Homo sapiens: one gene and its partners. The protein of the gene in region 2 interacts with the protein of the main gene of each other region in a pairwise test. Each region holds a gene or a part of one and is shown on either strand. Other genes may lie near its edges.

Region 1 (7,580 bases), on a different chromosome or scaffold from region 2:
TTTTTAGCATGTATGCTCTATACAATCCATAACACTTATGATGACATTGAAAATAAAGTCGTTGCAGATCTAGGATGTGGTTGTGGAGTACTTAGCATCGGAACTGCAATGTTAGGAGCAGGGTACGTAATGCAATATATGCTATTTGGGTATTGGGTGGCTTTAATAAGGAGCATCAATGGGATTAACTGAATTATATTTATGAGACTCCACAGAATGAGATATAGGGAGCAAAAATCTGATACTGAATACATTTTGAATGGGCAGAAGATCTAAACAAACTACAAAAATTAAATAAAAATGGTGAAAGCAGCAGTTCCTTTTATACAAACCTGAGTTTCCAACCCCTGCCGGGTTTGGAAATTATGCTGTTACACTTGACTGGGCACAGTGGCTCATGCCTGTAATCCCAACACTTTGGGAGGCCAAGGTGGACAGATTACTTGAGCCCAGGAGTTTGAGACCAGCCTGGGCAACATGGTGAAATCCCATGTCTACAAAAAATACAAAAATTAGCTGGATGTGGTGGTGTGCGCCTGTGGTCCCAGCTACTTGGGAGGCTGAGGTGGGAGGATTGCTTGAGCAGTGCAAGATGGCACCACTACACTCACCTGGGTGGCACAGCAAGATCCTGTCTGAAAAAAGAAAAAAAAAAAGAAGAAAACACTCACTCTTACTTTGCTAATTGGGTTAAAAAGATATATGGTTTAAAAAAAAAACAGCTAATTTTGGTTTTGTTTTTACTTGGGAGCTATAAGTCGCCACTCTTTGTATGTGTTTTGTATTTATAGGTTGTGTGTTGGATTTGACATAGATGAAGACGCATTGGAAATATTTAATAGGAATGCAGAAGAGTTTGAGTTAACAAATATTGACATGGTTCAATGTGATGTGTGCTTATTATCTAACAGAATGTCCAAGTCATTCGATACAGTAATTATGAATCCTCCCTTTGGGACCAAAAATAATAAAGGTTTGTAACAAGAATCGGGTATATTGGTATATTTATAGAAAAGATTTTAAAACCATTTTTAAGGCCAGGCGCAGTGGCTCAGGCGTGTAATGCCAGTGCTTTGCGAGGCTGATACAGGAGGATCATTTGGGGCCAGGAATTGGTAGCCATCCCGGGCAACATAGTTAGACCCTGCCTCTACCCACACACACACACACACACACACAAATTTTAATTTCCCAAGTGTGGTGGTGCACCTATAGTCCTAGCTACTCAGAAGGTTGAGGTGGGAGGATCACCTGAGCTCAGGTATTCGGGGCTGCGATGAGCCATGAATGTGCCACTGCACTCCAGCCTTGGTAACAGCAAGACCCTGTCTAGAAAAAATTAAACAAAAATAAAAACCATTTTTATCACTGTTTGGGCTAAGTGATTTTATCACTCTTCATTAAATAAACCAAGGCTAAGTGATGTTATTACTCTTCATTAAGTAAACCAATCTCTTATTTGTATAGTTCTTATAATTTACATTTCAATTTGTTTAATGCATGGCTAAGAAACTGAGTTTTTCAACTTTCATTTTTACAAATTTGTATTAAGTAAACAAAGATAGTCATGTCATTTATTGTATATCTCCCATTTGCTTTCAGGAATAATTTGCCTAACCCTTATGAATGAATACGAAACATAGAAAGAATTTTATACTTTCAGAATCTGTTTTTTAATGTCTTAACAGACCCAAGGGTTTCTACATGTGCCCATCAGTAACAGTGACTCACCGTGGCTGTTAATTTTGTGTGTACTGTGGGCAAGGAGGTTAGGAAGTCAGTGAGGGTAGGAAAAGACATGCATAGTTTGGCCGGGCGTGGTGGCTCACGCCTATAATCCCAGCACTTTGGAGGCTGAGGTGGGTGGATTACCTGAGGTCGGGAGTTTGAGACCAGCCTGACCAACATGGAGAAACCCCGTCTCTACTAAAAATACAAAATGAGCCAGGCATGGTGGCACATGCCTGTAATCCCAGCCACTAGGGAGGCTGAGGCAGGAGAATCACTTGAATCCGGGAGGCGGAGGTTGCGGTGAGCTGAGATCATGCTATTGCACTCCAGCCTGGGCAACAAGAGCGAAACAAAAAAAAAAAAGACATGCATAGTTTAAAAAGTACCCTGCCCCCACCAAGATGATTCTGAATAGTACTCTATGCATTTCCTTCTCCCCTTTTTGAAGTCATTAATGTTGGAATATAATATTAAAATTTTTACTTTATCCTTATTTAACCAAGACAGTATAATTCTGGTTTTATTCTACCAGCCTTAAAATAATATTTTGATAGTTTATTTGTACCCTTATTGCTAAAAGATTTCAAGGTGGCTATTTTGAAGTTTGGAAGAAAATATTTCTAAATCCTACTAACTTAATCTTCTGTTTTGAGAAGAGGTAAATAGGAGCTTTTTTTCTACTCTTCACAGGGACAGATATGGCTTTTCTAAAGACTGCTTTGGAAATGGCAAGAACAGCAGTATATTCCTTACACAAATCCTCAACTAGAGAAGTAAGTTCAAATCATCTGATATTCTGTGGCATTGATTTTTAAATTCATGACAGTGTTTTTAGGATTTGCTGTGAATACTAGATACCACAGTATCTATTTCTCCTGACCATTTTGACATGTGAAACTTAAATTTTCCACTTAACCAGCTAGCATCTGATTGGCCTTTTTCCAGGCTATAAGACTTATTTCCTCAAAGATTTTTTTCAGACAGGAACTGTTGCCAGAGGAGAGACTATAACTCAGGAGTAGAAAAGTGTGTTGTAACTAGGATTACTGTATGTTTTGGTTTCTCTGAGTAAGTCTTAGTTGATCCCTTTTGTCCCATTGTCCCGGTGTGGCCTGATGTACTTAAGGGAGGCAGTAAGGCCAGGTTTTCAGAACACTTGAGCCTGGAGCTAAACAGATCTGAGTTCAGAAATCACCTATTCTTACTTTTGCAGCATATAACACATGGAGAGGTGTATAAGTTGTAGTCCAGGAAACTGGGGGAAGGGGCAGTACATTTTTTTAGTGTCAGTATAACACAATAGTTAGGAACAGAGATTCTGAAGCCAGACCAGATTCTCTGGGTTCAGATCCAAGTTCTGCTGCCTCCCAGCTGTTTTCTTGGTCAAGGTAATTGAGTTTCATCATCAAGGTAATTGAGCTTTTGTCATCTATACTATCCTCACCTGTACTCTAAGTGTAAGGGACTGAGAGTACCAATTGTACTTCATAAGAATTGTGAGGATTACATGAGTTAATATTTACAAAGCACTTAGATCAGTGTCTGACATGTGTAATTGCTATGTGTTAGCTATTATTATTTAAATCATACATGTATTCAAAGATTTTAAAGTGCTTTTGTAGGAAAAATACTTAATTCATGTAAATACAGTACGTAAGAACCCAGTTGGAAATAATACATTCTAGTTACATGGTAATGTGATAACCTTTTAAAAAGCATAAAATATAACAGCTAAAAAGAACTATACTGCTAATAATAAGTAGTGGTACATGTAGGCAAGCAACAGGACACAACATAGCTAGTAAATAAATCCTCACTCACTATATATGAAAGCAAACACCAGTAAACATTGGTATCCAAACCTGTGTCCCCAAGAACACCCTCAGGTTTGATGATTCACTAGGAAATCTCACAGGACTCAGCATCTAGTCTTATTCATGGCTATGATGTATTACAGTGAAAGGATATAGAGCAAAATCAGCAAGGAGAAAGGTGCATTAGGCAGAGAATGGGGTAAACCAGGGCCAGGCTTCTGGAGTCTTCTGCCAGTAGAATAACACAGGACACAATTAATTTTCCCAGCATGAATTATTGATAACACATGTGAAACATTGCCAACCAGGGAAGCTCATTAGAGACTCAGTGCCCAGGGCTTTTATTAGGGACTGATCATGTAGGCAATTCCCTTTCTGACACATACCCAAATTCTAGACTCCCAGTAGGAAAACAGGTGTTCAGCATAAACAGTGTTAGGCACAGTCAGTCACTATTATTAAGGGAGTAGGGAGTGGGAGGCTTCCCAAAATCTAAGTTCCCAGTCTCCAGACAAGGGCCAAACTAAGCAGGCCTTTCTAAGGATAAGCAGCCAGGCCTGCTGTGAACTCTTTTCTGCACAGCTTGGCATAACATGAATTTTTTTTTTAATTATACTTTAAGTTCTAGGGTACATGTGCACAACATGCAGGTTACATACGTAGACATGTGCCATGTTGGTTTGCTGCACCCATCAACTTGTCATTTACATTAGGTATTTCTCCTAATGCTATCTCTCCGCCAGCCCCCCACCCCCCAACAGGCCCCCGTGTGTTATGTTCCCCTCCCTGTGTCCATGTGTTCTCGTTGTTCAACTCCCACTTATGAGTGAGAACATGCGGTGTTTGGTTTTCTGTCCTTGTGATAGTTTGCTGAGAATGATGGTTTCCAGCTTCATCCCATGAACTCATCCTTTTTTATGGCTGCATAGTATTCCATGGTGTATATGTGCCACATTTTCTTTATCCAGTCTATTATCGATGGACATTTGAGTTGGTTCCAAGTCTTTGCTATTGTGAATAGTGCCGCAGTAAACATACATGTGCATGTGTCTTTATAGCAGCATGATTTATAACCCTTTGGGTATATACCCAGTCATGGGATGGCTGGGTCAAATGGTATTTCTAGTTCTAGATCGTTGAAGAATCTCCACACTGTCTTCCACAATGGTTGAACTAATTTACACTCCTAACAGTGTAAAAGCATTCCTATTTCTCCACATCCTCTCCAGCATCTGTTGTTTCCTGACTTTTTAATGATTGCCATTCTAACTGGTATGAGATGGTATCTCATTGTGGTTTTGATTTGCATTTCTCTGATGACCACTGATGATGAGCATTTTTTCATATGTCTGTTGGCTGCATAAATGTCTTCTTTTGGGAAGTGTCTGTTCATATCTTTTGCCCACTTTTTTGATGGGTTTTTTTTTCTTGTAAATTTGTTTCAGTTGTTTATAGATTCTGGATATTAGCCCTTTGTCAGATGGATAGATTGCAAAAATGTTCTCCCATTCTGTAGGCTGCCTGTTCACTTTCATGATAGTTTCTTTTGCTGTGCAGAAGCTCTTTAGTTTAATTAGATCCCATTTATCAATTTTGGCTTTGTTGCCATTGCTTTTGGTGTTTTGGTCATGAAATCTTTGCCCATGCCTATGTCCTGAATGGTATTGCCTAGGTTTTCTTCTAGAGTTTTTAGGTCTTACATTTAGATTTTTAATCCATCTTGAGTTAATTTTCATGTAAGGTGTAAGGAACGGATCCAGTTTCAGTTTTCTGCATATGGCTAGCCAGTTTTCCCAGCACCATTTATTAAATAGGGAATCCTTTTCCCATTGCTTGTTTTTGTCAGGTTTGTCAAAGATCAGATGGTTGTAGATGTGTGGTGTTATTTCTGAGGCCTCTGTTCTGTTCCATTGGTCTATATATCTGTTTTGGTACCAGTACCATGCTATTTTGGTTACTGTAGCTTTGTAGTATAGTTTGAAGTCAGGTAGCATGGTGCTTCCAGCTTTGTTCTTTTTGCTTAGGATTGTCTTGGCTATGTGGGCTCTTTTGGTTCCATATGAAATTTAAAGTAGTTTTTTCCAATTCTGTGAAGAAAGTCAGTGGTCGCTTGATGGTGATAGCATTGAATCTATAAATTACCTTGGGTAGTATGGCCATTTTCATGATACAGTGCTCTACACTTTCGGAGAAACTTCTCTAGTAACGAACTATAGAAATGATCCCTGAAAGTATAGTCTTGGCATAACATGAATTTTATAAAACTCAGTTTTACTGCATGAACTGAATTCCCCATGTACCTATATCTCTGCCAAATGGTTTCTAGGCTAGCTAGCTGTATATATCAATGAAATAATGCTACAGAAACCATATGAGAACATTACACATCTTTGATAGATTTCTGAAATAGTCATGCATCCTTTAACAACAGGGATATGTTCTGACTAATGCATTCTGAGGTGATTTCATCATTGTGCAAACATAGAGTGGACCACCGAGGCTCTGTGGTTATAGTCTGTTGTTCCTAGGCTACAAACCTGTCAACCTATTACTGTATTGAATACTACAGGCAATTGTAACACAATGGTATTCTTTTGATCTAAACATATATAAACACCAAGAAGGTAATGTGTTGTGCTGTGATGTCAAGATAGCTACATCATTAGGCAATAGCAATTTTTCAGCTCCATTTATAATTTTATGGGACTACCAAAATATATGCAGTCCCTAGATAACCCCAAATGGCATTATGTGGTGCATGAGTAGCTTTCTATCACTTGGATTTATTGTGTGATTTGGTTCAGATTGTTAAATGTATTGAAATTGATTTATTATTTTCAGAATACTATCCATTCAATTGAAATTTTTATAAGGGTCTAGATTCTAATGAAATTTTAAGCTTAAAAACTCAATCTCAAGTATTAGTAAAAAGCAATTTTAAAAAATCATTATTTAAAAATCAGCTCATAACAACATATTATTTATGTTCAGCATGTTCAAAAGAAAGCTGCAGAATGGAAAATCAAGATAGATATTATAGCAGGTAAGACAAATCTCAATCCTAATATCCAAAAGGGCCAACATGTATTCGCCCAACCAAAATTTTCATGCAGGTGCTGAGAAGATAAACTATGCTTTACAGTGTGGCAAAATGTGCATGATTGGTAATAGATTGGAAATGGAGTAAAAGCAGAATGAACACTTAGCCTGAGACTGTCCTAATTTATGCGATTTACTGAAAATTTCTAATAGCACTCAGGTATTTGGTCACTCCAGACTCAGGCAGAACACTGTATAGCAGCACAATGGCTAAAAACATGGGCTGGGGGCCAGGTGTGGTGGCTCACGCCTGTAATCCTAGCACTTTGGGAGGCCAAGGTGGGCAGATCACCTGAGGTTTGGAGCTCAAGACCAGCCTGGCCAACATGGTGAAACCCCATCTCTACTAAAAATATAAAAAATTAGCCAGGCATGGTGGCGCACACGTGTAATCTCAGCTACTTGGGAGACTGAGGCGGGAGAATCGCTTGAGTCCCAGAGGCAGAGGTTGCAGTGAGCCGAGATCGCACCACTGTTCTTCAGCCTGGATGACAGAGGAGACTCAGTCTCAAAAAAACAAAAACAAACAAATGAAAAAAAAAAGTGGGCCGGGCGCGGTAGCTCACGCCTGTAATCCCAGCACTTTGGGAGGCTGAGGCAGGCGGATCACGAGGTCAGGAAATTGAGACTATCCTGGCTAACATGGTGAAACCCCGTCTCTACTAAAAATACAAAAAAATTAGCCAGGTGTGGTGGCAGGCACCTGTAGTCCCAGCTATTCAGGAGGCTGAGGCAGAAGAATGGTGTGAACCTGGGAGGCGGAGCTTGCAGTGAGCTGAGATCGCGCCACTGCTCTCTAGCCTAAGCAACAGAGTGAGATTCCATCTCAAAAAAAAAAAAAAAAGTGGGCTTGGAGTTGGTCAGATCTTGGTTTGAAATTCATTCATAGAAAATGCCACCACATTATTCCTAGATAATCTAATTTCATTTTCTTTT
Region 2 (7,472 bases):
AGTTCCAGCTCCTTGGGAGGTTGAGGCAGGAAAATTCCTTGAACCTGGGAGGTGGAGGTTGCAGTGAGCTGAGATCGTGCCACTGCCCTAGCCTGGGCGACAGAGCAAGACTCTATCTTAAAAAAAAAAAAAAAAATTCTTTCCAGGTTTTCTTCTTTTGCTATTATAGTTTGGCTTAAAAATATTATATTTGATTAAATTGATATTAAATTTGTTGTAAAAAGTCAGGTATTACCACTTGAAGGTAGTTGTCCATGTTCTCTGGCATTTTGAAGAATTGGACAAAACACACAAACAAAGCAAGGAAGTGAAAGCAGAAATTTATTTATTTATCTATTTATCGAGACGGAGTTTTGCTCTTGTTGCCCAACCTGTAGCACCATGGCGCGATCTTGGCTCACCGCAGCCTCCGCCTCCTGGGTTCAAGCGATTCTCCTGCCTCAGCCTCCCGAGTAGCTGGGATCACAGGTGTGTGCCACCATGCCTGGCTAATTTTTGTTTTGTTTTGTTTTGAGACAGAGTCTCGCACTGTCACCCAGGCTGGAGTGCAGTGGCTCGATCTCGGCTCACTGCAAGCTCCGCTTTCTGGGTTCACGCCATTCTCCTGCCTCAGCTTCCCAAGTAGGTGGGACTACAGGCGCCCGACACCATGCCTGGCTAATTTTTTTGTATTTTTAGTAGAGACGGGGTTTCACCGTGTTAGCCAGGATGGTCTCGATCTCCTTACCTCGTGATCTGCCCGCCTCGGCCTCCCAAAGTGCTGGGATTACAGGCGTGAGCCACAGCGCCCAGCCGCAGAAATTTATTTTAAACAAAAGTACGCGCCACAGGGTGGGAGCAGGGTTGAACAAGCCTGAAAAGCGTGGGATACAGAATTTTTTGGAGTTTAAATACCTCCAGAGGTTTCCCATTGGCCCACCATCAGTCTGATTGGTTGCGGGAGGGGACCAGTCAGAATGAAGAGTAGGCCAGTAACCAGTTTGATTGGTTGCAGGAAGGGACCAGTCAGCATGAAGAGTGGGCCCATGATCAGTCTGATTTTTTCAGGAGAGGAGCTATCAGAGGCCTTGCCTTGCCTTGCCTTGCCTTGCCCTGCCCTGCCTTGCCCTGCCTTGCCCTGCCTTGCCCTGCGCCTTGCCCTGCCCTGCCCTGCCCTGCCTTGCCTTCCCCTGCCCTGCCTTGCCTTTCTTTCTTTTTTTTTTTTGAGACCAAGTCTCGCTCTTGTCGCCCAGGCTGGAGTGCAGTGGCGTGCGATCTCGGCTCACTGCAACCTCCGCCTCCCAGGTTGAAGCTATTCTCCTGCCTCAGCCTCCTGAGTAGCTGGGATTACAGGCGCCCACCACCTCGCCCGGCTAATTTTTGTCCTTTTAGTAGAGACGGGGTTTCGCCATGTTGGCCAGGCTGGTCTCGAACTCCTGATCTGAGGGATCCGTCCGCTTCGGCCTCCCAAAGTGCTAGGATCACAGGCGTGAGCCACTACGCCCGGCCGGTATTTTCATTTTTCAACTGCCAGACAGAAAAAGGAGGGCTTGCAACTGCCACGGAGCAACTGCCACGCAGAAAAAGGCGTGGGTGAAAAGAGAGTGGCTTCTGATATCCAGTCAGCAGGAGTCGGCCTGAGGGTCCCCGCCTCCAGACCTTGTTATCCTGCCTCACAGGTAGATACCCAACTTATTTTTTCCATGACTGTCTTGCCTATTCTTTCAATATTATCTCCCCTTATGAATCTTAGAACTTATTTGTCTAATTTCAGAAAGTATCTTATTGATACATTTTTCGAGAAATGTATAGGTTACTTTAGGAATAATTTTGTCAGTGATTAGAAAATCTAAGCAACCTGAAATTCCAGGTTTTCCTAAATACTATTAAAGTAACAACACCTGTCTGTTAAATAAAAATTAAGGAGACCCGCTCTTTTTTTTTTTTTTTTTTTTTTTTTGAAACGGAGTCTCTCTCTGTCACCCAGGCTGGAGTGAAGTGGCGCAATCTCGGCTCACTGCAACCTCCGCCTCCCGGGTTCAAGCGATTCTCCTGCCTCAGCCTCCTGAGAAGCTGGGATTACAGGCATGAGCCACCAAGCCCGGCTAATTTTTGTACTTTTTTAATATAGATGGGGTTTCGCCATATTGGTCAGGCTGGCCTCGAACTCCTGACCTCGTGATCCACTCTCCTCGGCCTCCGAAAGTGTTGGGATTACAGGCGTGAGCCACCGCGCCTGGCCGCAGGGTTTTATTACTTTCGTTTTGTATCTATAGGAGCCTTAGTCATGAAGGAGCCATGATACATATTTATCAAATTTTTGTAATCTTCTTTAGTTACACATTTAGGTTTGTTGTCCACTTACCCCCCCCCCCCCGCCCCTTGTACTTACAAAGGTGTGGTAAACAGCCTTGGGTTTATTATTCCACATCTTTGTATTTCGGTAGCATATATTTCTAGAAAGGAATTACCATCTAGAAGGGAACAAATGCATATTTTAAATTTTGATAGATACTACGAAGTGATCGTCAAACAGGGCATCAGTGACACCCCCGTCCACAATATAGCGGGTGTCCACTTCCACACACTCCTAAATTCTGAATATACAATTTTTAAAACTTTTGCCAGCCTGTAAATCTGAGGCAATCTAGGTCATGGCATTTACCGTTGAGAGACAGATACGCAAAAGAATCTCTCCTATTGCCTGGCTTACTGTCATCATTCCATATTTTCCTTATTTTACCGATCAATCTGTCAGTAAAATATGTGTGATGGCTATAGTGTCAGCGAATCTTAAGGAAAAGAATTAAACATCAGACTCCACCGAGCCCTTAAAGAAATCCACGCAAACAGGTTGCTTTTTGAAATCAACACTTCCGACCAGTAACTGAAGGGATGGAATCTGCTGTAGGGGTATTCGGTGTGTTCCATTCTTAAAGCGGGGAGTTCCTTTTTTTTCCCCCCAGACGAAATCTCACTCTGTTGCCTAGGCTGGAGTGCAGCGGCACGATCTCAGCTCACTGCAACCTCCGCCTCCCGGGTTCAAGCGATTCTCCTGCCTCAGCCTCCCGAGTAGTTGCCTGGGATTACGGGCGCCCACCACCACGCCCGGCTAATTTTTGTACTTTTAGTAGAGACAGGGTTTCACCATGTTGGCCAGGCTGGTCTCGAACTCCTGATCTCGGGCGATCTGCCCGCCTCAGCCTTCCCAATTGCTGCGATTATAGGCGTGAGCCATCGCGCCCGGCTGGGAGTTCCATTTTTCTGGGAGCTCCTCCAAGACCCTTACCCCCACCCCCAGAAGAACCCAGCTGAGTTCGCGGGCCTGCCTTTGTCTCCAGAGCCACGCAGCGCTCCCAGACACGCTGCGCCGGAGAAGGCAGCTTTCTTCTGCCGTCCTCACCCTAGGAAAGGGGGTTTCTTCCCTGGCCCCAGTGTCCGATGCTCAGGGATCGGGTTCTCCCTCCGAGGGTGCACCTGGAAACCCGAGCGTCGCCCCGGGGCTCGCTTTTTTCAGACCGCGTCCCATACAAGTCCGCGACCCTTCCACGTTTGGGACAGGAGTGGGAGAGCTTAGCGCTTCCTATTTTTTTGTGGGGGGAGTGCAGGTGATTATAAATCTGGGCATGCAGACTACAGGCTTATTTGACCTGCAGCCGAGTGCGGGGCCAAGCGCCGGGCTCCTGGGGCGCCACCGTTTCCAGACGCGCAGCCACCCGGACTGGACGAGGGGCGGGGTCCGACCTAACTGCCATCCGATGGACAGCGTTTTTTATTCGCGGTTTTCACCCTGGACTTTGGCTTAGTTAAACCTAAAGAGCTTTTTGGAATCTTATCTTTCCCAACGTCTATGAAGTGGGAACTCAATCTCCAGCCCTCTACGTGTGTGTGTGTGTGTGTGTTCAGCGAAGGGAATTCACCCCGGAGAAGAGCCCTGGGTCACTAAAGCGCCGGGCACCACGAGGGTGGAAAAATCCTTCAGAACCAGCCAATGGCGGTACGGCCTGCCCTGAGGGCCCGCCTCTCCGGCGCCCTCAGACATCACGCAGTCGTTGTTGTGATTGGCGGATTTAGGCGGAAAGCCCGCTAGCCTAAACCACAGAGGGTTTTGATTGGTTGCAGCGAACAGCCGCATTTCTATAGTCCAAACCTGGAGCAGTTTAGTGATAAATCCCGCCCTAAAAGGCATTTGATAACCGTTTTACATGTTGTAAGGCAAAGGGTGATTGGTCAGAGAGCTCACGGATTCAGTCGGTAGTAAACACAACCAGACTTCAGGGACCGTGGATTGGTCAGTTTTTCCGGGGGCTAAGTAAATTCCTCCAGGTTCCGCGCGCCGGCTGGCTGCACTCCTACCCCGGCCCCGCCCTTCCCATTGCTGATTGGTTGCAGCCCAACTGGGAGAGGCGGAATGGGGCGGAGTAGGCGCTCTTGCATTACGTCACTTCCGCTTATCCTCGGGCGCCGCCGCCGTGTTCTCAGAGTGCTGCGGCGAACTGGCTGGAGGAGCTAGGGGACTAGAGGCGGGGTGGGAGGGGGGCGGGTGGAAGGGGGAGGAAGTCCCGTAACGGAGACGCTGGTCAGGACGTTCCCACCTCCTCTGACACTGCCGAGTCCGATCGGAGAGGGGTCACCGCCTCCTTCAGCGAGGAGGAGGGGGGCGGAGCCCGACTCAGGTGAGGAGACCCCGTCAGCGAGTATCGTGATGGCGGGCGCGCTCACGTGGGGAAGGTTGAGCACCAGGGGCGCGCCAAGGCGTCGGGGAGCGCGCAGACGTGTACTGGTGCCCCCGGACTACTCTGGCTGTCTTTCGGAGGGGAGCATTGTTACCGTTGGAGCCAAGGGGCCAGGCGGGTTCTTCTGCGCAGGCGTCCCCGGTGTCCCGACGCCAGGCTGTCTGCGGGGTGGGGCGGGGGCTGGTACTCCTGTGGATCCCCGGCTGGCGACGTAGGTTCCCGAATGGGGTGGGAAAGGCCTCAGGACCAGCGGCCTGGCGGGATGAAGAGAGGATCTGCTGCCCTGCGGGATGTGGTCGGACGGCTCCCTTGCCCCCATCCTGGGTCTTGAGCGACGAGGTTTCATTTCACCAGAGCAAGGCCATAGGCAGACTGCCATCGGGAGCCAGCGGCCGACCCTGGAGGGGTGGAGCCAGTGTTTCGGAATGCCCCAACTTGTTATGAGAGGACTGAAGTGTTTAATAGGCATTTATTGAATGCCCACTACTCCCAGGCTTCGTGCGAGGAGCTGTGGGGGATGCGGTGGTAAGACACTGCCGTCCCATCTTCTCCTGTTTGGAGGACAGATTTGTATGTAAATAATAAAAGGCAGTGAATTAAGGGGTGTTGAAGGTTAGTTTTTTCCTTTCATAATGGTCATTTTTTTTTAAGTCAGTCAGCATTCTGGCATAGTGAAGGATATTGTGGAAACTAATTTTCTGAACAGAAGGCAAATCCTAAATAATTTGGAGGAAAAATTTTAGGTGAAAGCACAGTAAAGTTGATTACTAAGTAGTATCTTCTGACTCTAGTTAACTTGAATTAATAGAAGGAACTCTTCACCTTCAAAAATTGAAGCAAAAATATTCCAAAACATGTTCTCATATTTTTCACTTGTATTAAGTAGAGGACATTACGGGCTTTTCTTTAGAGGTTGAAGAGAATGCTGTGCCTTAGTCATTAAGTCATTGGTAATTTGTTGTCCTAGTATGGGCTGTTGTGCTTAGATGTAAAAGGCTGGGCAGAACTTGCTTTTCATTTGCCTAAACTCTTGTGATTTCTGTGGGGACGGTGGTTGGCAGTAAGCTAATAGTTCAGAGGGAAAAGTCCAGATGGGAAGAAGACAAGGAATTTTAGAGAAAAGCCCCTAAGCCAAAGGAAACCGTTCACTCTTCCTTTTAACCCTTATGGAAATCTCATCAAATTTGGGAAGATTGACCTGGCCACCACAGCCAGCTTGGTGACCTTACAGGTAAGACTACTTGGGTGGGGACCTGTTTTGGGCCCTTGGGTTTTGCTGAATAAACAGACTCTTTTTTTGAAGAGTCCTGAAGTCAACTCGTTTACTAGAGATTTGCCCCTTTTCCCTAAAAGTTGTGTCAAAACATAACTTTTAGTTAGCTGAGGATGCTGGCAAGCTGGATTTTGGTTAATTGATATGTCTCTAGCAGAATTCTGAAAATGGTAAGATTTGGAGGAAAGGCATCTTACAGACTTAGGAGCGAACGCTCTCAAAAGAGACTCACAAGACTGTCCCCAAAGTGGAAGTAATAAAAAATCACTGGGATATCAAATAGTACTTAAAGAACTCAGCATGAATTATATCGAATTGGAGACTTTAAAATATCTTGTGTTCAGTGAAATTGACAAAACCTGGTGTAGTGCTGACAGAGAATCTTGAATCTGGCTCACATTCGTTTTGGAAATGGAAAAAAGAACCCAAGGTATTGATTCTATGTTAGCTTTCAACTTTTTTTTTAATGTAAATTAATTTTAAATACTTTCCCCCTCTGTCAGTTTTAAGCGTGTGATTTTTCTTTTACTGTACGTAATATTTCTCAAATATGGATGTTGTCTAGTAGAGCCAGTTTTGTTAGTGTAGCAGGTGGGATGGAATGTAGCACTACACTATGCCTTTTGTCTAAGTATGAAGTGAACTTCTCATCTCCTAAAAGACCAGCTGTTTCTGAGTGAACTATTGCTCTTTGCATATGTTCTCATCATTTTCACCACTGAATAGTAGCTTTTAATTTCAAGATCCAGTTTTAGAGGTGCCTTTCATTTTATTAGTTATACATGTATTTCCTAAAAGCTTTGATTTATCTTGACATCCCAAACAGATTAGGTTACTCTGACAATTCGAAGGGTGAGGAGGGCAGAGAAGAATTTTATTGAGTGATGGAACAGCTCTCAGAGAAGAGGGCATGCAGGGGGTGGTCTCTTTCCCAGTGTGGCTGGTTCCGGGGCTTCTTAGGGACTCAGAATGGGGAGTGTGTGCTGATTGGTTTCTGATGCAAAAAGTTTAAAGGGAAGGCCGGGTGTGGTGGCTCACGCCTGTAATTACTGCAATTGGGGAGGCTGAGGCGGGCAGATTGCCTGAGCTCAGGAGTTCAAGACCAATCTGGCCAACATGGTGAAACCCTGTCTCTACTAAAAATACAAAAATTAACCCGGCATGGTGACGTGCGCCTGTAATCCCAGCTACTCAGGAGGCCGAGGCGGAAGAATCGCTTGAGCCTGGGAGGCAGAAGTTGCATTGAGCTGAGAGCATGCCACTGCACACTTGGAGTCTTGGAGACAGAGTGAGACCCTGTCTCAAAAAAAAAAAAAAAACGGTTAAAGCAAAGACACCACTCAAAGGTGGGCACGACAGTGTAGAAAACCAATTAGGAAAGGGGTAGATATATGTAAAATAGGTGAAGGGTGGGGATCAGTCAGAGGAAAGCATGCCAAATGGGAACACAGGTTCTCAATCTGGTCCGTGGATTTGACTTGTAG
Region 3 (7,712 bases), on a different chromosome or scaffold from region 2:
GCGGATGTCTTTGAGCTCAGGAGTTCAACACCAGCCTGGACAACATGACAAAACCCTATGTCTACAAAAAAATACAAAAATGAACTGAGCATGGTGGCTCATGCCTGTGAGCCTAGCTACTTGGGAGGTGGAGGCTGGAGGATCGCTTGAGCCAGGAAGTGGAGGTTGCAGTGAGCCAAGATAGTGCAACTGCACTCCAGCCTGGGTGACACAGCAAGACCCTGTCTCTCTCTCTCTCTCTCTCTCTCACACACACACACACACAGAAGTGTGAAAATCTTGGTTCTAGATTAGCTACTACTTACAACTGTGACTTTGGACAAATCACTAAACATATCATTGCAGTTGCTCACACCTGTAATCCTAGCACTTCTGGAGGCCAAGTTGGTTAAATTGCCTGAGCTCAGGAGTTCGAGACCAGCCTGGGCAATACAATGAAACCCCGTCTCTACTAAAACATACACACAAAAAAATTAGTCAGGCATGGCAGCGGGCACCTGTAGTCCCAGCACTTTGCAGGGCCAAGGCGGGCAGATCACGAGGTCAGGAGTTTGAGACCACCCTGGCCAATATGGTGAAACCCCATCTCTACTAAAAATACAAAAATTAGCCAGGCTTGGTGGCACGTGTCTGTAGTCCCAGCTACTCAGAAGGCTGAGGCAGGAGAATCGCTTGAACCCGGGAGGCAGAGGTTGCAGTGAGCCGAGATCACACCACTGCACTCTAGCCTGGGTGACAGAGCGCAACTCCGGCTCAAAAAAAAAAAAAAAAAATTAAGAGGTCATCTGGGAATATCTGGAAAAAAAGAATAAAATTTTCTTCTCCTCTTAAGATCTTTAAAAGAGAAATGATGGTTGAAAGCAAAAAATTTAATATTGTCTGATGGGGATTTCAATGTATGTAGATTAATAAATATGACAATTACAACATAAAGCAGTGAGAGTAAAGGGACCTATATGGTGATAAGTTTTCTACATTCTCCTTAAAGTGGTAAAATATTAACTCTAAGTACACTATGAAAAGTTAGGGATGGATATTCTAACTCCTAGAGCAAGTACTAAAAAAACCTACATGAAGAAATATAGTAAAAAACTCTATTAAAATGAAATATTGGCCAGGCACAGTGGGTCACACTTGTAATCCTAGCACTTCATGAAACCAAGGAGGGCAGATCACCTGAGCTCAGGAGTTCAAGACCAGCCTGGCCAACATGGTGAAACCCCGTTTCTACTAAAAATACAAAAATTAGCTAGGTGTGGTGACGCACACCTGCAATCCCAGCTACTTGGGAGGCTGAGGCACGAGAATCTCTAGAACCTAGGAGACAGACGTTGCAGTGAGCCGAGATCACACCACCGCACTCCAGCCTGGGCAACAGGGCAAGACTGTGTCTCAGAAAAAAAAAAAACAAAAAACTAAAGCATATTCAAATAATCCCAAAGATGGAAGAAAAAGAGAGGAAAAAAAAAAAGCAGAAACCAAATTATAATAAAATGGTAGCCCTAAATCAAACCATATCAATAATTACATTAAATGTAAATGGCCTAAATATACCAATTAAAAGACAGAGATTGTCAGAATGAATAAAAAAAAAGACCCAGCTACATCTATTTATTAAAAACTTACTTTAAATAAAATGGCATAGGTAAGTTAAAAGTAAAAATAAAAGTAAAATGTAGACCTACTCATAACTCCCCCGAACTGGAAATAACACAAATTCTCACAGATGCATGGCTAAAAACTACCATACATCCATGCAATAGAATATTACTTAGCAATTTAAAAAATTATTGGTACACACAACAAAATGGATTAATCTCTAAGGCATTATGCTGGGTAAAAGAAATCAGTTTCAACAGTTACAAACTATATGACTCCATTTACATGGCACTTCGGAAAAGGTAAAACTATAGCAATTAGGAAAGATCAATGGTTGCCGACAGTTGGGGTGGAGGCAGGGCAACATCAGGGAGTTTTTTAGGATGATGGAACTGAGGAAGCCATGGTTGTGGTGATAGTTATATAAATCTATACATATGTTGAAATTTATAGAACTGTACACCAAAAGTCAATTTTACTGTATGTTAATATTTAAAAATGAAGTAAAATAAAAATTACGTGGATGATCTCCATGGACCCTTCCAGACTATGATTCTATCAGTGAGAAAAAGAAAGGAGAGGCAAAAGGAAGACAAGGAGAATGTTAAGTCCTACTGGCATAAAAGCCACTACTCAGAAGAACGGGATTACTGTACAAAAATATACAAAACAAACCCAATCTTCAGAATTTATTCCCAGAAGGGGCTAAGAAAACCGGACATTCGGATCTAAAATATGTATATTTTTAAATGCCTATGAATAGCTTTTCTTGTCTGTTTCTATATTTTTTTACTTTGAAGAAGCTGCCAATTTCTGCTGGCTTAATGCCAATTTCGCTGCTTGGGGTTACTCAATTTACAAGCATCCCTTTATTTATACCCTATACTCTAGGGTCTCCGGCAGTCACAATAACGACTCTGAAAAAGCAGTCGCTTTTGCAGGGTGCCAGAAAGATCAGCGCTCCTCACCCGGAACTAAGGTCCCTGTGGGACACAGTACACCCCGTCCACTAGTTCCAAACTTAAAAGACGCTGGGCGGAAGGTCTTCCCAAGTCAAAAAGCCTCCCAAAGGAGAAGGACCCTGGAGGCCGGGCTTCGGGGCATTTCTGCGTCTCCGGACTGCCCTGTCGCCTCCGGGGCAGCTAGCCGTTTTGAGGACTGTCCTGGTGTGGGGCTGTGGGCTGCAGAAGGTTCTGCCCAGCGACCTTGGGCAAGTCCCTTCCTCTCCTGGAGTAAGAGGAAAATTCTGGGAAGGCTGTGTAAGGGAGCTTCCCATTGCCGCCTCAGAATCCACTTTCTGCCCCCCGCTCTCCAACGCCAAGAAGGAATCACACTTGGCCCTCCAGACTTCACCCCAGCCTTATGCCCGCCACCCTTCCCAGTCCCTGGGAGACCCGCGGGAACTAACACATCCAACCGAGGGCATGGCCCGAAGGCAAGGGGGAGGCAGTAAACACCAAATCCCGGTCTCAGACCCACTCCGCCCCAAGCGGGCCTACCGGGCGCATTCCGACCCGCCCCGCCCTGCGGTCACGGCCCGCCAGGTCCCGCTTCCACCCAAGGGAAGTACAGAGCGCGCCGGGGAGGGTCGGGTGGGGGGCCGGGTCAGGAGGCGCCCACCTTGAGCTGGGACTTGGAGACCTTGCCGCTGTGGTCCTGGTCGAGTGCGGTGAAGGCGTGCCAGATGGCTTTGAGCAGCTCCTCCTTCAAGCTCCCCATGGCCGCGGCCCTGCTGCCCCGCCAACCCCTCCTGCCCAGCCAGCCCCTCCGCGCCTCGGACGCCCCTCAACCTCCGCAGCCACAGCCCGCCGCGCAGTCACCTGACCCGCCAGGCCCCGCCCCCGCCAGGCCCCGCCCTGCTGCCGGCGCCGGTCCAGTGCCGCGCCCACAGCCGCCAGAGTGTGGGTTCTGCGAGTCAAGCCACGCCTGGTGGCAAGAATGCTTGGCCTTCAGTGTCAGCCAGGACGGTAAACACATCTCCCTAATGTTTCCCAGACCAGTTCGGGCCATTTTGGGTGCTCGAGTACAACACCTCACACAAATGACCGCGTCTTGAGGAAAAACCCGAGAGATTAGGTGAGCAGCCTACCCGCCTCCTCCCAGCGCCCCGCAGTGAAAAAGGGATCCCTGGTCCTGTCCTGGGAACGGAGTCACTGTCTGAGAAGGCCAGAGAAGACCCCGAAAAGTCCCCAGACCAGGACTGAAATGATAGCGCAGTCCCAAGTCGGGGAGATGCAGGGCGGCGGGGAGGCAGGAAGGACCTCGAGGGAAGTTTGTTGGTTCATTTCGCAAAAGTTTATTCATGCATACTCTATCTTGGGTTCTAGGGACACAGCGACGACGTTTAAGGGGAGTTTAGAAGTCAGGGTCAGGCAGCATTTTCTTCCTAACGCCTAGCTGTTGTTCAATTCACATCTTAGGAGGGGTTTGACCTGGGTAATACCTCTCTGTAGTGTTTCTCTGCTTGCAGAATAGGAGATCTGGGCCAATTCCAAATCACTCCACCCATTTTACTAATCCAAAGAGATGGACCATTTAAAAGAACGTATTCGGCCAGGCGTGGTGGCTCACGCCTGTAATCCCAGCCCTTTGGGAGGCCAAGGCGGGCGGATCACCTGAGGTCGGGGGTTCGAGACCAGCCTGACCAACATGAAGAAACCCCGTCTCTACTAAAAATACAAAATTAGCCGGGCGTGGTGGCACATGCCTGTAATCTCAGCTACTCGGGAGGCTGAGGCAGGAGAATCGCTTGAACCCGGTAGGCGGAGGTTGCAGTGAACCAAGATCGCGCCATTGCACTCCAGCCTGGGCAACAAGAGTGAAACTCCGTCTCAAAAAAAAAAAAAAAAGTATTCGATTGCAGCTGTTGAATTAATATCTGTTCGCGGTGGTCACAATGGTCACTTGATCTCTTTGGGCTTCAAATTATCCCGTATAAAAAGAGCAGGGTTGCACCAGATGTTCTGGAAGGGTTCTTGCAGTACTAGCATCCTAGGATAATAACTATTGCCGGTTAACTAAGGTCTGATTAAATCGCCAGGCTCAGTACCTCTCCTCTCCAATCCTGGACTAATTGGAGAGAACAATAAACACCAAGAGTTTTTAAAATGAGGTGGTTCTCAGATGAAGTTTGGTTTTGTTTTGCTTTTTTAAGTTCCTTAATGCACATGTTTGCCTTATTAAGAAAGGAAAAGATCTTCATAAGAAAGGGATATTTGGAAAGAGAAGAACAAGAAGGAGCCTCTTCAGTGAGTTTGAGATCAAAAAGGAACTGGTGGGGAAGAGGAGAGGATGGCCCCACTGACGAAAGAAGGGGCAGGAGCAAAAGGGTGGCCAGCCCCTCACTGTGACTGTCCTGAAGGTTCTACCCCATTTCATCACCATTTGTCAGGACTTTTCTTGCCCTACCAGAATCCAATTTCTATCATTTATCTTCCCCATTTCCAGCCCAAGTCTGCCAGTCAGCAAAACCACATGGTTTAACCTCTGATTTATTCATGCGAAGTCAGCTTACCCTGAGTAGCAAAAAAAAAAAAAAAAGAAGAAGAAGAAAAAAGAAACGAAGAAAACCTCCTAATTCTCAAGGTTCAGTTTAACCACTATATGACCCTTCTTCTCTCTCAGTATCTGGAAGTACCAAACATATTTCAAAGCCTTTTTTTTATGACAAGACCAGGACATTGTGGACTTCCAAATTCCTACTTCTCCCATCATCCTCATTCATACAATCCAAACGCATTTTTTTTCTTTTTTTTTCTTTTCTTTTTTTTTTGAGACAGAGTCTCACTCTGTTGCCCAGGCTGGAGTGCAACGGTATGATCTCAGCTCACTGCAACCTCCGCCTCCCGGGTTCAAGCGATTCTCCTGCCTCAACCTCCCAAGTAGCTGGGATTACAGGCGCCAGCCACCACGCCCGGCTAATTTTTTTATTTTTAGTAGAGATGGGGTTTCGCCATGTTGGCCAGGTTGGTCTCAAACTCCCAGCCTCAAGTGAGCTGCCCTCCTTGGCCTCCCAAAGTGCTGGGATTACAGGCGTGAGCCACCATGCCCTTCCTATCCAAACAAATTTTAAAGTAGCATGATGTCATAGAAAGCGCTGTGCTTTTCCTGGGTGCAGTGGCTCCTGCCTGTAATCCCAACACTTTGAGAGACTGGGGTGGGAGGATTGCTTGAGGCCAGGAGTTCAAGACCAGCCTGGGCAATGTAGCAAAACCCCGTCTCCACAAAAAAATTGAAAATAAGAAAGAAAGAAAAGTAAAGAGTTGTGCTTCAGAATCTAACAGATTATATTAATCTAATGCTGTGTAACCAATTAACCCAAAATTTAGCAGCTTAAAACTATAGTAAACATTATTTCATATTTTCTGTAAGTCAGGAATTTAGAAGCCACTTAGCTCTATAGTTCTGGCTTGAAGTGTCTCAGGAGGTTGCAGTAAAATATAGGGCTGTAGTCATTTGAAGGCTAGGCTGATGCTGGAAAATCTATTTCCAAGGTGGTTCACTCACATGGATGGGTCGTTTACAGAAGGCCTCAGTTCCTCTGTATATGGGCCTGTCCTCAGGCTGCTTGAGTATCCTTACAACACGTCAGCTGGCTTTCAATTGATTCAAGAAAGAGAAAGATGGAAGTTGCAATGTCTCTTACGATCCACCATCAAAAGTCATTCACCATCATTTCTGCAATGCTCTACTGATTGCTCAGGTCAAATCTATTTGATTTGGGAGGGAAACTACAAAAGGATATGAGTACCAATGGGCAAGAATCATGGGGGTCATCTTGGAAGATGGCTACCACACAGATGTCGGGAAGAATCCGGGCTTCCCCATTGACTCATCTATGAGTAAATATAAGGCTTCATTTCCTCATATGTAAAATGAGAATGCTAATATTTATTTTGCAACACTTCTTTTTTCTTTTTTTAATTTTTTTTTTTTTTTTTACAGCCCAGAGGTCCTTTATTTTTTTTTTTAACACCTATTATGCCATGAATTCATAGGAAATAGGTTCCAGCAGCTCAGGCTGCTTCCCGTTGGTTCTCACAAAGTGTGCTTCTCTGGGTGGAGCAGGCTGGCGCTTTAGTTGAACCCAGGTACCTTTCTCTTTGGCGTCTTTCTTTTTCTGATCATTTTCCTTCACGTGTTTCAGGAAGCTATCTCGGCTCTTAGAGTGCTTAATGTGCTCAATACGCACCTTAATTCTCTTGGCAAGAATCTTGCCCTTAACTTGTTTGTTTACAACAATGCCAACAGCATGCTGGGTAACATTGTAGACTCTTCCAGTTTTGCCATGGTAACACTTGTGGGGCATTCCTTTTTGAGCAGTACCCATTCCCTTGATGTCTACAATATCAGCTTTCTTATAGATTCGCATATATGTGGCCAAAGGAACAACTCCATGTTTTCTAAAAGGCCTAGAGAACATATATCGGGTGCCTCTCCTCTTTCCCTTTGTGTTCGTCATTTTGGCGAATTACTGGAAGATGGCGGTTCCGGCCGAAAGGAAACTTTTTTTTTTTTTTTTTGAGACGAAGTCTTGCTGTCACCCAGGCTGGAGCGCAGTGGCTTGATCTTGGCTCACTGCAATCTCTGGCACCTGGGTTTAAGCAATTCTCCTGCCTCAGCCTCTGAAATAGCTGGGATTACAAGCGCGTGCCACCATGCCCAGCTAATTTTTGTATATTTAGTAGAGATGGGGTTTCAGCATCTTGGCCAGGCTGGTCTTGAACTCCTGACCTCGTGATCCACCCTGCCTCGGCCTCTCAAAGTGCTGGGATTACAGGCGTCAGCCACCGCACCCGGCCTCTTTTTTTAATTTTTATTTTTTTGATGAGGTCTTTCCAGATGAGATCTATTTTGCAAGACTGGTATGAAGTTTAAATGAGAGGGTAGTATGTATAAGACACAGCATCAGCATCATGGTATCTGACAGTCACTGATGTTTGTACTGTGTCAATTAGGTAAGTTGAAATCTAGTTCCTCAAATGTCCGTTCCCAATGTGGATCCAGGATAGGATTCACTACAGAAGAATTTCGTGTAAGTTTGGAAGGAGCAGGTAAGATTTATGTAAGATTTGGAAGCAGCAGCCCTTGTGTTCTGAAGGTTGATGTAAATA

Evidence for each region.
Region 1: the proteins of ZBTB5 (region 2) and METTL5 interact in binary tests that used the Homo sapiens proteins (3 or more experiments, as listed by UniProt).
Region 3: the proteins of ZBTB5 (region 2) and SWAP70 interact in binary tests that used the Homo sapiens proteins (3 or more experiments, as listed by UniProt).

What each region holds. Positions count from the first base shown.
Region 1 is NC_000002.12:169,814,485-169,822,064, reverse strand, and holds part of METTL5 (rRNA N(6)-adenosine-methyltransferase METTL5), read left to right. Parts: intron 1-7; coding exon 8-122; intron 123-791; coding exon 792-973; intron 974-2,421; coding exon 2,422-2,504; intron 2,505-5,686; exon of another isoform or gene 5,687-5,786; intron 5,787-6,536; coding exon 6,537-6,588; intron 6,589-7,580. UniProt on the Homo sapiens protein: Catalytic subunit of a heterodimer with TRMT112, which specifically methylates the 6th position of adenine in position 1832 of 18S rRNA.
Region 2 is NC_000009.12:37,462,398-37,469,869, reverse strand, and holds the start of ZBTB5 (zinc finger and BTB domain-containing protein 5), read left to right. Parts: upstream 1-4,419; 5' UTR 4,420-4,655; exon of another isoform or gene 4,656-5,946; intron 5,947-7,472. UniProt on the Homo sapiens protein: May be involved in transcriptional regulation.
Region 3 is NC_000011.10:9,659,786-9,667,497, reverse strand, and holds the start of SWAP70 (switch-associated protein 70), read right to left. Parts: upstream 3,422-7,712; 5' UTR 3,319-3,421; coding exon 3,220-3,318; intron 1-3,219.